Homo sapiens: one gene and its partner. The protein of the gene in region 1 interacts with the protein of each later gene in a pairwise test. Each region holds a gene or a part of one and is shown in the gene's direction. Other genes may lie near its edges.

Region 1 (4,392 bases):
AAAATGACTTTACCTACAACAGTTCCATTGTCAGCACAGCCTAGGAAGGTCAGATCCTGTATTAATTACTCTTAGTGGAGATGCCAGATATCCCATACAGAATTAGCAGAGAAAATACACACAGGCTTCTATTCAAATTTTCTTTAGTGCTTAAAATTAAGTTTTAAAATGAAATCAGACACTGCAGGTTTGTATATAAAATGAAAAGCTATACTACTTTTTACAAAAGGGCAAACTGGGCTGATGTAAATGTTTTACTTTCAACTGTGTTCTTTAAAATAAATCCTACCTGGTTTTTAAATTTTATTTTTCATGAAAATGCTCCTTTCTCTACATTTATTCATCCTATATACATCAGGCTGTAAGACCCCCCCCAGTCATCATTAATACAATGTGTTGGGATTCTGTGACTGGAAAAGGTGACAAGTTGGTGACTTTGACACTGCAGGTATTCCATTTTCATGGTTTACTATGAAAAGTCATTTTTCATATTATGTAATATATTGTTAGATTAAAACCATTGTATTAAGACTTTAAAATGTAAGCATTGTAATTCTGAAAATACACATTTTAAGAAGAAACTATTTTGCACTGGATCTTTTGCTGCGACATGGTGTGACAACAGTATGTAATGTGAAGATTTTATTGTTTTATCTCCCTAGTCCTTGTTCCTGACTCTTGGGCATAGATTATTTGCCTTTTGGGAAACATTCGGATTATTTTTTTTTTTTTTTTTTTTTTTTTCTCTGAGACAGTCATGCTCTGTTGCCTAGGCTGGAGTGCAATGGCGCGATCTGGGCTCACTGCAGCCTCCGCCTCCCAGGTTCAAGCCATTCTCCTGCCTCAGCCTCCCGAGTAGCTGGGACTACAGGCATGCGCCTCATTTTTATACTTTAGTAGAGATGATGTTTCACCATGTTGGCCAGGCTAGTCTCGAACTGCTGACCTCAGGTCATCCACCCGCCTCAGTCTCCCAGGCGTGAGCCACCGCACCGGCCAGCATTCGGGACTTTATTCATAATTCCTTACCCAACAGTTCACAAGAACGAAGACATTTGGGTGTGCAGCGCTCTCATGTTGTGGACGCTGCTGTGCCAGGCTGGGCGTCCGTGCGGAGCGCGCCCAGCGCTGGAGCGCGCCTAAGAGGCGCCCTGCAGTGTGGCTCCGGGGTGTGGGCGGGGCCCGGAGAAGGCCCCCGCCTTGGGAGGGGTTGGGCCTCGCGTTCAAACTCCGCCTCGGGGCGGGGCGAGGGCGACGCAGCTCCTCCTGCCTCCTGGGCCGCTGCGGACGGTGGTGCGCGACCCCGTCCCGGGCGCGCGCGCTGTGGGCGGTGCACGCCGTCGCTTCCCGGAAGTGCGTGCTGTGGGCGGTGCCGCGCGGACCCCCGGGAAGTGTCTCTGTGGGCGGCCGCCGGGTTGAGCTGCGGCACACGTGCGACGGCCGTGATGAAGTTCGCTTACCGGGTGAGCGCGGGCGGCGGGCGGTCTGTTGGATCGGCGCGGCTCTTCCGGTGGACGGCGCCTGAGCTGGCTCCGGGCGGGCTGGGGGCGCGTGGTCTGCTTTTGCGGCGTCTGGCCGCGTGGGGGTCGCCGGCTGTCTGCGCGCCCGTGGCCTCGGGGACGCGGGGCTGTGGTGGGGCTCCTGGGAGAGCTGGGACGGAGGCGCCGACGGCTTCTCGGAGGGAACAGGGACATTTGTCGGGGTCCCGGGATATTTTTAACCTGAGTATGGCCCAACCTAAAGGCTGGAGTTGGTGCAGTCGGGGAGGGCACAGCACCCTCGGGAGGGATGAGGAGGTGGGACGGGGCGGGGACGCGGGCGCGCGCAGGCGGGGTGAGAACAGCAGGGACCCGGGGCCCGGGACTGGTCCCTAACGAGCGAGCGTCCAGGTGAGCGGAAGGGCGGGGAACCCAGGTGTGAGCTCTGTTTCCCGAGGCCGGAGGGAATTCCTGAGGCGGACGCCCTCAGCTTTGAGAGCCAGGGAAGACTTGTCCCAGATGTGAAGTGCAGGAGGCGGGTGAGACAGGTAATAAGAGGGGGCCGTGGAGCCGGCCTGGGGGTCTCTGAAGCGTTTGCTACAGCTGGCCGGTTATGGGGACGCCTGTGTTTCCCACAGTGGCCCTGACCGTTGCGCTTCCAGGGTTGCACGGGCCGCCTGCTGCTGAGCCCACCGTGTACTACACTTGTCCTGTCCGAAACTGGGCATGGTACTGGCCCCTCAGAGTGCTGCTCCTGTGTCCCCTGTGCTGGTGGAGCCACCGCTGTGTGCCCAGCACCAAACCAGAAACCATATCCACGTCCTCACAGGCCAGGACTTCATCCGCTCCACATTCCTACTGCAAGGTGGCAAAAAATGTGCCTTGGAGCCTGCCTGGCCGCTTAAAGTCCTTCTGCTGACCAAGCTCCTCCCTGAGGTCCTGAGGGCGCTGCCCACTCACAGCTTCAGGGCCTGGCTGGTGCCTTCCCATTTAGATTCCAGCTCAGGTGACCCTTCCAGGTGCCTCTCCGTGACCACCGTCTAAAGTAGCCCCTGCTCCCACACTTCTCATCCCCCTCCTGCTAGAGAGAGAATATAAGGTGTGCGTGTCTGTGCGCATGGCAGTCTCCAGTGAACGCTCGTGCTCGTGAGTTAGTAAATAGGATGCTGGCTTACCACACTTCTGGAAGCCCTGAGTTCTAAGCACTTTTGGGGTGCTGTTCCATTGTTGCAGCTTTTTTCTTGGTGAAGTGTGGGCTCCATGCCCCTCTTCACCTGGCAGACGCCTCCTGTCTTGGGAGGCTTCCTCAGTGCTCACAGGGGCATCTTACCCATCTCTGTGGGAGCTTGGGGCCGCCCGGGCTCCTCTGGTCTCCTGAGGATCAGGCTCACTTCTTCCTCTCTTACCCAGGAAAGGTGAACGGGCCCCCAAGGTGGGGTTCTCTATGCCATCTCTCTGCCCAGATGCCTCACTTAGTGCTTTTCTGGGAGTCGACTGTTTTCTTTGTGTTAAGACAATTTTGTTTTCTTCACAGTTTTCAAATTTGCTGGGTACGGTGTACCGGCGTGGGAACCTAAATTTTACCTGCGATGGAAATTCAGTTATCAGTCCCGTGGGCAATAGAGTCACTGTATTTGACCTTAAAAAGTAAGTATGTGAAAGTGGTATTCATAATAGTGATACTGATTACTATTATCACCATTTTTTAAGTAACATATGAAAACTGATAGTGTCTTCTGTGCCTTCCTTTTAATGGTGCACCCGTTAATTAAGGGAGCCCAGGACAGGACTACAGGACAGACTAGGGTCAGCAGATCAGTTGTGGAAATTGGCAGCCAGACCCAGTTCTTCGTTGTAGTGCCTTAGCCAGGCCCCATAAAGTGGTGTGTCACTTGGCTCCGTTCTGTGGGAAGGGACCCTGTCCCTGTGCTGTGAAGGGTGGGTGGGGGAAAAGGTGTAGCTCAGGGTTAGCCCTTCCCCCATCAGGGAAGGCCCCTAAGGGCTGAAAGGCCAGGGCTGCTGGGGGAGTTGAAGGTACCTTGGACCCCTGCTCGGGAGCCCTGCTGCCACTGGGCCTCACCAGTCGGACGGGCAGGCCCAAAGCTTCCAGCTCTGCAGCCGGAGGTCAGTTTTATTCGCTGGGGTTTAGCGGTTTCTTCCTGTGTGCTGTTGCACTTTGCTTCACTTTGTTGCACTCTGGCTCTGTGCGGATGCTGTTTTACCACGAAGCGAAGGTGTGTGGAAACACTGCTTGGAGAAAGTTGGTCGGTGCCATTTTTCCAGCAGTGGGGGCTCACTTCATGTCTCTGTGTCACATTTTGGTAATTTTGTGATATTTCAAAGTTTATTATACCTGTGAGGGTGATTTGTGATCATCTTTGCTGTTGCTATCGTGATTGTTCTGGGGTGCCGTGATCCGTGCCCATGTAAGACAGCGAGCTTAATCGGTAAGCACTGTGTGTGCTGTGCCTGCTCCACCGACCGGCTGTTCCCCACCCCCCCACGTCTCTCTTCCTCTACTTGGGTCTCCCTATTCCCTGACACAAACAATGCTGAAATTAGGCCAGTTAATAATGGCCTACAGTGGCCACTACGTGTTCATGTGAAAGGAAGAGTCACACAACTCTCACCTGAAATCAGAAGCTAGAAGGGACTCAGCTTAGTGAGGAAGGCATGTCAAAAGCTGAAATAGGCCAAAAGCCAGGTCTCTGCCACCAAACAGGCAAGTTGTGAATGCAAAGAAAAAGCTTTTGAAGGAAATTAAAAGTGCTACTCCAGTGAACACACAAATTACAAGAAAGCCAAAATAGCCTTATTGCAGATACGGATAAAAGTTTGAGTGATCCAGATAGAAGATCAAACCAGCCACAACATTCCTTTAAGCAAGTCAAAGCCTAATGCACAGCAAGGCCCT
Region 2 (3,686 bases), on another chromosome or scaffold:
CTGTTGCCTAGGCTGATCTTGAACTCCTGGGCTCAAGTAATCCTCCCACCTATCCTCCCAAATTGCTGAGATAACAGGCATGAGCCACCATGCCCAGCAGAAAAGTAGTAAATCTCGTAAGTGATTATTACCTAAAAAAACTAAAGTAATAATTAAAAACAACTTATTCTTGTCCAGTTCAAAGTTCTTGGAACAATGTACTTGCAAGTGTAGGAGTCTCAGTAATAAAAGAAAAGCTTAATGTAGAACGTTTATATGAACATGTGTTATGCTTTCTTCAGTTTCTGGAACATTCAAATTCAGTGTTTCTACAGCCAGTTAGTCTACAAACCATTGCAGCAGCACCATCAAACCAGAGTCTGCCACCTTTGCCCAGCAATCATCCAGGTACATGGGACCTTATTATTCGCATCAAATAAGGAAACTTATGAGAATATATGAGTCTGCCAGAGATTCATTGGTAACTGAAAATAGGAGAAATTAGAGATGCTCTTTTGTATTTTTAAGCTAATGAAACAAATTCAGGGCAGATACCATTATGACTGACTTATAAGAGACTGTAAAAATGCTTGTGTTAAACTGAGTATTGTGTTTTGAATGCTAAGGTAAATGAATCTTTAGTTGAGGTTTGGAAACCTTTTTGATACATACAGATTTGTTGAACTTGGGAGTAGCATTGGGACACCAGTCTGTTTTGGTTGTGTTTATTAGGATCTAATATTTGAAGTCTAAATTATAAAAAGAATATCAATTGCGTGTACTCCTCAAAAAGCACAATATGTTTACTGGTCTCTTTTTTTGCCCAAAGCGATGACAAAAAGTGATCTCCAGCCACCTAATTACTACGAGGTAATGGAGTTTGATCCCTTAGCTCCTGCTGTCACTACAGAGTAAGTCATTTACAAAATGATTAATTTATTTTTTGTCTTGGTTCCCTTTGATAGCAGAGCTAACAGGGCTTGGTTATACATTTAACTTTGTTTAGGTCTTGGCAGAAATTGATGGCCTTATTAAAAATGCCTTATGAGGTTTTATGGCAGCTGTTACTCTTAATGGTCTTATCGTTCCGGCCTTGTGACTAAAAAATAAAAATGCTGGGGTTGCATGTTAAGAAATAACTGGAACTAACCTGCTTAATGGACTCCTCATAGATCCCTTGGCAGAAAGTCATGTTCTCTTTAGCTTGAGAAGGGTACTAGTCACTGATTGGTGACATAAGTTTATGCCACATTGATGGAATATTTTAGCTGCTCTTTATGAACTGATCCAAAAAAATCTTATATTAGAACTTGTTTTTAGTCTTCTAAAGCATTAGTACAATTACTTTTTACTTAAAATCCTTAAAGCAACATTCTTTTATGATTTCATATTGGTCAAGATATATAAATATTAATGGAATGGTAAGGTCATAAGAACTTTAATATACTTTGAGTGACTGAAGGTTACCCCCAAATTGTTAAAAATTATTAAAGCACGTTTATTGGAAATCATTGTTCAGAAACTGACAGCCTACAGGCTCTATCTTGCTTGCAGTTGTTTGTTTTTGACCTGTGCAGAATTTAAAATGTGCATTTAAAAAATTAATTGCTGGTTTGGGAAACTCTCAACCATGTTTTTCCTCAGCTCTCACTCTAATATAACAATGAATGCAGAGACTTCTGTGGCCCCCAAATATGTGAGGATTTCTCCCCATCAGCAGGCAAGCAATGAATTCTACAATGGACACCAGCTGGGTGTCCTCTGATTCAATTCCAACACCATCTACCTGGAGATAGTGTCAGACCCCACAGGTTGAGAGCTCAGTCCCCACCACCCCGACACCTACCTTCCCAGACACCAGTCACAAGCCTGGGCCTCTAAACTTAGGACTGACTGGCTTCAAGTTGGGGTTCCCATGACTGCTTCTTTGGGTTTGATTAGTTTGCTGGAGCAGCTCACAGAACTCAGGGAAATACTTATATTTACTGGTTTATTATAAAGGACATTGCAAAGGATGCAGATGAAGAGATGCACAGGGCGAGGCATGCGGAAAAGGCCATGGAGTTTCCGTGCCCTCCCTGGAGTCCCACCCTCCAGGTACCTCCACGTGTTCAGCTATCCAGAAACTGACCTGACCCAACCCCAACCCAGTCCTCTAGGGTTTTTAATGGAAGCTTCTTGATGTCAGCATTCCTTCCCCCAGGGTATAGGGCAGGACCCTCTCTAGGGAGGCTCTTATGACCCACAGTGACAAAGGTGGGCGATTAGAGTGGTGCCTTGGGGCAGGTGAAAGGAGGACTAGAGAAGGTCGAGAGATTCTGCTTCCAGAGGCTGGCTCCTAAGGCCTGACACACCCAACATTATAACAAAAGACTGTAACAAGGGCTATGGGAGTTGTGAGCCAGGAACCTTAGACAAAAACCAGTATGTATCATAAGACCACAGTTGCCAACAGCTGAAAACTCGGATATTTGAAAATAAAAATTCTGGACTTCTAGATCATTTAGATACTCTGTCAACACGAAGCCTGAATTTTTACGTGCTAGCTATGGGCTGGGGTTGAGTAGTAGCTATCTCCTTTACACAGGTAGGCTCTGCAGCCCCTCAGGTCCTGTTACCACCCAAAAAACCCAGGGTTCATTCACCTGGATAGTAACAGATATCTGACTCTCCACAAGGACACAGGTTTTGATCAATAGGAATTTTATTACTTAGCACAAGTAAATTCTTTAGGGGCCAGGATCAGAAAGCGTTCTTCTGTAACTTCTTCATGTTGACCAGGGACACTGTATCCAGAGATGTTAGAGGAGTGAAAATCTCTAGGCACTAAAACTAAATATGTTTTAGGGTCTCCCAGGATAGGTTGCAAAGGCACCTACAGTTGAAATTTTTCTAATCTGGAAGATACAAATTTTACGAAGAGGTTAAAGATGCAGGGACCAAACAACAGTAGTAAGAGCAATAAAATTAGTGGCCTCATTAGGGGAAGAAACCAAGTAACACTTGGTATTGCTAATTTGAGAACTTCTCAAACAGAATTAGAAGTATGGCTATTAGGCCTGATGTGGTGGCTCACCCCTGTAATCCCAGCACTTTGCGAGGCCAAGGCGCGCAGATCACCCTGAATTCAAGATCAGCCTGGGCAACATGGTGAAACCCCGTCTCTACTAAAAATACAAAAATTAGGCAGGTGTGGTGGTGCGCACCTGTAGTCCCAGCTACTCAGGAAGGTGAGGCAGAAAAATCGCTAGAACCCAGGAGGTAGAGGTTGCAGTGAGCCCAGATCGTGCCCCACTGCATTCCAACCTGGGCAACAGAGCGAGACTGTCTCAAAAAAAAAAAAAAAAAAAAAATATGGCTGCTGATTAAAAGTGTGGAACCAAGAGGCTTGGGCATGGACCTTCCTAATGTTAACTTCCTATTTCCCCTGAGGTATTTATTCAGGTACAGCAAGAGGAATTAATAACTGCACACTCTCCTCCTCCCTGTTCTGCTAAGAGGCAGTCTAATGCTATACAATTATCTAGTACCGCATTAGCCAAGGAGTCATATGAGGCCCCAAGTCTGGAACTTCCCCAGGAACTAGGGCCAGCATGGCAGTGCCATGGGCTCAGAACACCTCTATTCTGTCCTGATTTAGAGAAATTGTGGCTCCAAACTTAGTCAGAAGGTCCCTTCCCAAAAGGAGAATGGGATGTTTGGGGAAC

The links. The genes of interacting proteins can lie anywhere in the genome.
Region 2: the proteins of PWP2 (region 1) and TOM1L1 interact in a two-hybrid assay, tested with the Homo sapiens proteins (one large-scale study listed by BioGRID and IntAct).

The regions. Positions count from the first base shown.
Region 1 is NC_000021.9:44,105,972-44,110,363, forward strand, and holds the start of PWP2 (periodic tryptophan protein 2 homolog), read left to right. Parts: upstream 1-1,427; 5' UTR 1,428-1,445; coding exon 1,446-1,463; intron 1,464-3,012; coding exon 3,013-3,125; intron 3,126-4,392. UniProt on the Homo sapiens protein: Part of the small subunit (SSU) processome, first precursor of the small eukaryotic ribosomal subunit.
Region 2 is NC_000017.11:54,949,237-54,952,922, forward strand, and holds part of TOM1L1 (TOM1-like protein 1), read left to right. Parts: intron 1-281; coding exon 282-387; intron 388-808; coding exon 809-890; intron 891-2,665; exon of another isoform or gene 2,666-3,686. UniProt on the Homo sapiens protein: Probable adapter protein involved in signaling pathways. Interacts with the SH2 and SH3 domains of various signaling proteins when it is phosphorylated. May promote FYN activation, possibly by disrupting intramolecular SH3-dependent interactions.